2 separate regions of the Homo sapiens genome follow, and region 1 is linked to region 2. The links come from fine-mapping of genetic effects on gene expression. A gene starts in region 2. The other region holds a variant in brackets. All regions are shown on one strand. Distances are from middle to middle. Region 1 overlaps LOC102724495 (a long non-coding RNA gene). Region 2 holds the start of WNT2 (Wnt family member 2).

The links. PIP is the estimated chance that this variant, and not a neighbour inherited with it, causes the effect.
Region 1: its variant is fine-mapped to the expression of WNT2 in lung (GTEx, PIP 0.96).

What each region holds. Positions count from the first base shown.
Region 1 is chr7:118,292,615-118,295,531 of GRCh38, forward strand. All of the region lies in intron 1 of LOC102724495 (a long non-coding RNA gene), which reads left to right. Among named protein-coding and RNA genes, the nearest start is that of ANKRD7, 69 kb to the left of the region's middle. The variant C/G (reference allele first, on the strand shown) is at 1,170.
Region 2 is chr7:117,321,926-117,324,825 of GRCh38, forward strand. WNT2 (Wnt family member 2) reads right to left here and starts at 1,133. Exons shown (of 5, transcript NM_003391.3): 1 at 982-1,133. The coding sequence starts at 1,064. LOC105375467 (a long non-coding RNA gene) reads left to right here. Exons shown (of 2, transcript XR_007060645.1): 2 at 133-307. RefSeq lists an enhancer at 427-1,001 and a silencer at 2,404-2,861.

The DNA.
Region 1 (2,917 bases), 970 kb after region 2:
GGTTGCTGGTCAAGAGGTACAATGTTTTTTTTTTTAGGCACGGGCATTAAGCTTTGAGATCTATTGGAGAGCAAGGTGACTATAGTGAATAATCATATATTGTGTATTTCAAAATGGCTGAGTAAATTTCAAATATCTCCCCACAAAATATGATAAGTGAGGTGAAGGATATATTAATTAGCTTGATTTAGTCATGTCGCATTGCATACATATATCAAAACATAACATTGTACACCTTAAACATACACAATTATGATCTGCCAAATAAATAATACTAATAAAAACAATATACTCAATAGAGATTTTATCACTATCTGTTACTATATTGGCTTTTACTTCCCTGGATAATAATTTTTCTTGGATGAACACATACAGTATGTTTGGAATTCTGAGGATTTACAAAGTCAATAGCCTTATTCACAAAAATTATATCTCTAGGTAGAAAATTCACACATTATGAATGCCTCCTTGTTTTAATGTAATTTGTCTAATTTTATCATCACAATAGCTCTAAAATGGGTATTGTTTTCATACCCAAAAGAGAACAAAACCCAGACTCAGAGTAGAGAAGTGAAGGTACTTTTAGCAAGCTAGTGGCAGAGACTGGATTCAAGGTCACACATTCTAATTTTAAATACAATGCTCTTTTTATGATTTCAAAGTATTCCAAAATAAATTGGGGGAAATAAATTGCTGTGGTTGTTGCAAGCTACCCATCTTTAGAGGAACAGTGATTAAATACTTCAGGAACAAGAGTGCATCTTCTTTGATTGTGTTTGAGAGAATAAAACTATAAGGAAAAATTTTCTTGTACAGCCAAATAAATATTTTATATGAGAAATTGTTTTCAGGTTGTGCACTGTGAATCAAGGCCAAATAGGGCCAAATGAGGCTCCTGAGAACAGAATGAAAGAGAATGCAGTAAAATATGACAAGGTAAAATGCCAGACCTTCAGATGACCATGGATTGTGTCATCAGCCGGGAAGGTGAGATGTTGAGCTATTCTAGCTAATTGTATTACAAAATAAGCATCTTTTCCTAACCACGATAGTCACCCTGACACACCCGACTAGAGTCCCCCATCTTGGGGGATACTTACTATGTGGAAATGACAGATTTGCACTTTTTTTCCTCTATAAATTTGCAACAGAACCAGATCCAGATATCT[C/G]AGTGAATTCGAGGGAATATGGTTTTCTATCAAGTGAACTTTGTGACATAATCCCACAACATATCTCAGAAATGAATAAAAATCATTGCAGATGCACCTACAAGTCTCCGAGCTTATGAGAAAATAGGACTTTTGGGGCCATTGGGTGGTGTATAAATTACACACATGAAGTTCCTTGAGTTCTGTAGTTCAGGGACCTTCCTCTTACTTTCTAGGCAACAGGCGCAATCTGTGTCAAGCAGGATCCCACTTGAATCCTCTCTGCTTACATAGGTTTATGGCTCTAAGGGATCTGTCAATTCCCTTCTGGAAAGGAACTGAAAACCTGGTGAAAGCTGGTATCACTTTCAATCTTTTAAATGGCTTTTAGGTCAATGCTAATAAATTTTGAATCTGTAGTTCATAATTTTTAGTTCAACCACATAATTATTCTTATTTTGTTTGTCATGTTAAAGCCTTAGCATAAAATGCTACTCTCATCATTCTAGACCCTTAAGAAAAATCACCTGTCAGCTTGAATTAATTATAATTTCCTTTTTAAATATTATAAGAAGAATCTTGTTCTTGGGAAGTACTAAACAAGCCCCAAATCTTTTCTTCAAATATTTTTAAGATGTATGCAGAAGGGTAAAAAGCAAGCAATAGAGTTATATGTGTAAACCTATTTCTTGGCTGGGCATGGTGCCTGTAAACCCGTTGCTTTGAGCCCAGGAGTTAGAGACCAACATGGCAAGAACTTACCGCTACAAAGTGAAACAAACAAACAAAAAATTTAATTGAATGTTGTGGGCGCTCTGCCTGTGATCCCAGCTACTTAGGAGGCTGAGGTGGGAAGATCACTTGAGTCCAGGAGGTCAGCGTTGCAGTGAGTTGTGTTGTGCCACTGCCCTACAGCCTGGATGATAACAGTGAGACCCTGTCTCAAAAAATAAATAAATACATAAAAAGTAGACTTATTTTTTACTCTAATTCTATGCTACTCTATGGATAATTTTATTTGTTACAAATTATGCTATAGATAGAGGTCATGAAAAACATACAGGAAGCATGGTGAAGTGAAAAATGTGGCACAGTAGATTTAGATAATTCTAGACTCATTTCTGTTTCTTCTTGACTATGTAACCTTGAGTAAGCCCTTCAATCTGTGTCTCATCTGTAAATGGGGATAATATTATTTGCCTCCAACACATTATTGACTGACTCAGTTATACTTCCCATGTTTTCAAAAACAATATGTTGGGGACCTTTTGCACTAATATAACTCCTTGTGTTGATCACTACCAGGTAATATGATGATTTATATTATTAGTGAGAGGTATTTTAGTTAGAGTTGAAAATATACTCAATATGTCAGGGTTTTTTTGTGATCTCCACAATAGAAGTTGAATATCGTTGGTGAAGACTGGAACAGAGCTTCTCAACTTCATCCTGGAAAGAACTCTCCAGGGTATTGTGTTCTGTTCTGGAAAACTCACCTCAGGAGGTTCTTTAATTAAATTGAAGAGTGCATATGGCTAGGCATTGAGTGTGTTTTTGGGCCACTGTCTGGGGACAGCCATGATAGAATTGAAGATATTTTACTTGGAGAATGAATGAATTGGGGACTTGCTATCTGTGATTATTTGCAAGAAGGTAATGTGTGGCAAGGTTTGGACTAGTTTTGTGAAGCTCTGGAGGACAGGAGTAGGATGAATAGGTGGATGATAACAAAAAATAATTTCAAACAGTTATAACTGATTTCAAAATGG
Region 2 (2,900 bases):
AGTGTCTTCCTAAAAATTTCCCTGCTCTAGTCTGTAATTTAGCTGAGACCCCTTACCAGATTCTTTAAAAATTAGCCCACGATAACGGGTGTCTCTGAATCAATATTTTAATATCTGTTCTGAAACTTTTAGGTGCAAGGAAATTACAGGGCTATCAACTCTATCTCTTTCCAAGACCAGAAAGTCGGCAGATGGAGAACGGTTTCTAGATGGGGAGGGAATCTGCCTTTGGAACTTTTAGCGACCTGGTATGGTTCAACATTCCATCACTATGCAAAAATAAATAAATAAATTGCAGACCAACGTACAAAGGAAAGCAGCAAAGTTACTCTTCGCGGGGACGGTTGTGAACAAGGTAACATCTTAGAGACAGACCCCGGGGTCTGTAGCTTTGCATTAAAGCCATAGTCTCTAACTGGAGGCAGCAAAATGTTCTTCCGCCCCACTGGGGTGAACCTGGAATGTGGAAGGACGGGAAATAATACAAAGTCACACGCTTTAGGTTCTACAACTCCTGACTGGCTGAATTGGCCCGTCGATTTACCTTGAGGCAGTTTTGGCGGGGTGGGGGCTGGGATGGGGGAGGCGGTTGTAGTTTTCAAGGTGAATTTACACACACACACACACACACACACACACACACACACGTCTGTGCTAGAGCTGGAGACCAGGCTAGCACGTCTCTCAACAGGATAAGAAATTGGCTGATTTTGCTGTCGCTCAGCTGGATCCAAATAAACCAAACATCGGAGCTCTCATTTGAGGGGGAATGTGGTTTTATGGAGTTGTCAAAGCTGAAATGATCTTCTGGGAAAAGAGAAGGGGCTCACCATGGGGCGATAAGAGGGCAGTAGCCAGGGTTCGGGCCAGAATCCGAGACTGCTGCGGCCGCGGGGGAACGCAGCCAGGAAGGGTCTATGTGGCCAATGCGGTCCCCATTCCGATCTCCAAAATCCCCCGCGCCCGTGCGCGTGGACTTACCACCATGAAGAGTTGACCTCGGGGGTGAGCCAGGTCAAGAGCAGAGGGAGCCAGAGCCAGATTCCACCGAGAGGGGCGTTCATATTAACCCCCTTGCGTCTGCATCAGGTCAGACTCCGTGTGCGGGCGCCATGCGTGCCCAGAGCAGAAGCGCTCAGCTCCGGGAGCGCCTCGTCACGGCCGCCGGCGCCTCGCCGCGCCCCCGCCCCCCGCTCGCGTCTGCGACGAGTGGCGAGACTCGCTGATAAAGTTTCAAACGATGGGCCCAGCGAGCGATAAAGGCCAGCCCGGACCGCCTCGCCCACAGCCCAATTCCCCAGGCGCAGCGAGCGCCTGCAGCCCGAAAGCTCTGCGCGCCTCCCGCGCGCCCCGTCCGCTCTGCTCCCCTCCGGGCGCAGCCGAGGGAGGGGGTGCTGCGCCTGGCGGGGGTGGGGAGAAACGCGGGGTTTTAGACACGGGTGCATGAAATGATGGCAAGAGATGTCTGGGGATGAGGTGAGGCGGGGAAGGGGGAACATCGCTGCATGGTTACGAGCACACGCGAATACAGGAACCTTTAGGGAAGCTCCAGGCCAAAGAGCATCCGTGGGCTCTCGGAGCGTGCGTTCCGGATTGCCGAGGCCATCCGCTGGCAAACAAGTCCCTGAGCGTGCAATGTGAGGAAACGAGGAAGGGGGCCAGGGGATAAGGAGATTACTATGCATGGGATACAAGAATCCAGAGATGATTCTCAACTCATTGCTTCGCTTCTCTCCCTGAAGCTGGGATGAAGAGCTAGCACTTGTAAATTTGGAGCTGCCGCGTCTATGCAGGGCAAGGTTAGGGAGGGGCCAGGCCTCTGCGAAATGACCTGTTGGCTTTGATTCCTTGGTGCTGGGCTTAAATACAGAGCCCATAGGGAGGGGAACTTGGAGGGTCCATGACCCTCGGGACCTAACCCAGCAGTATCTGCCAAAGCACCCAGGAAAGATGCAGTTTTTACGCACACCCAGCTCCTCTCCGGAGCTGCGGAGCGCAAAAGATCACATAGAGAGGAACCGAGGCAGCCAGGCGTTCGCCGGGGGTGTGCGCCCTTGCACCTCCTGCCGCCTGGGCGCTCAGCCTGTGCGCCTTGTGGAGGTTAAGGGACCCTCGGTCCTGGACCTGGGCCCCCGCCCAGCCAAGAGAGAGGGGCTTGGGCCCGCGGGTGGAGCATTTTGAGCAGTAGCTGGCTTGTAGCCGCGCCGTTTATCACCGGAAAGGAAGGAAGACCAGGAACTCGTGGCGGCCGTGAACTGTTCCATTGCTCTTTTCCTGGGGCGGAGGGACTCACTGCCCGCCCGAGGAGCGTGCTCTGGGGAATAGAGTATGCGCCTGTGTGTATGTGTGGGAGGCGAATTGTTCGCAGGGCGTGGGGGAGGGGGTGCCGCCCAGATCGGAAGGACGGGCTCTCCCTCTCTCCAGCCCACCCTCGGGCCTGGACTGGCCAGAGCGTCAGCCCTCGCCGGCAGCGAGCGCGGTGAGAGGCTGGACGAGGCGAAGCTCAGAGACGCCAAAAACCTGAAAGATGCTGTCATCGCCACCCCCTTCCCCCACGCTGGTCCCTGGCAGGTCCGGCCCCTCCCAGGCTGACCCAGATACATCCCCGTTTGGGTCCGGAAAGGGAGGGGAGGGAAACAAGCACCGCGCCACCCACGACTCGGGAAGAGCAGGGCTCCTCGCCAGGGCCGCTCCGTATCGCTGGGCCGCGACCCAGGGAAGTTCTGCTTGGTCTGCGTCGGTCGGGCGGGAGGTGCAGGGAGGGCGCGTGGGGCGGCAGGCAGCGGGGCGGGGGAGCGTTTCTGCTCGCCGTGTGTGCACGCCGGCCATGGGGAGGGTATGATAGGCACCAAAGAGCAACACGCCTCTCATGTACTTACATGCTTATGCTCACAAACCTC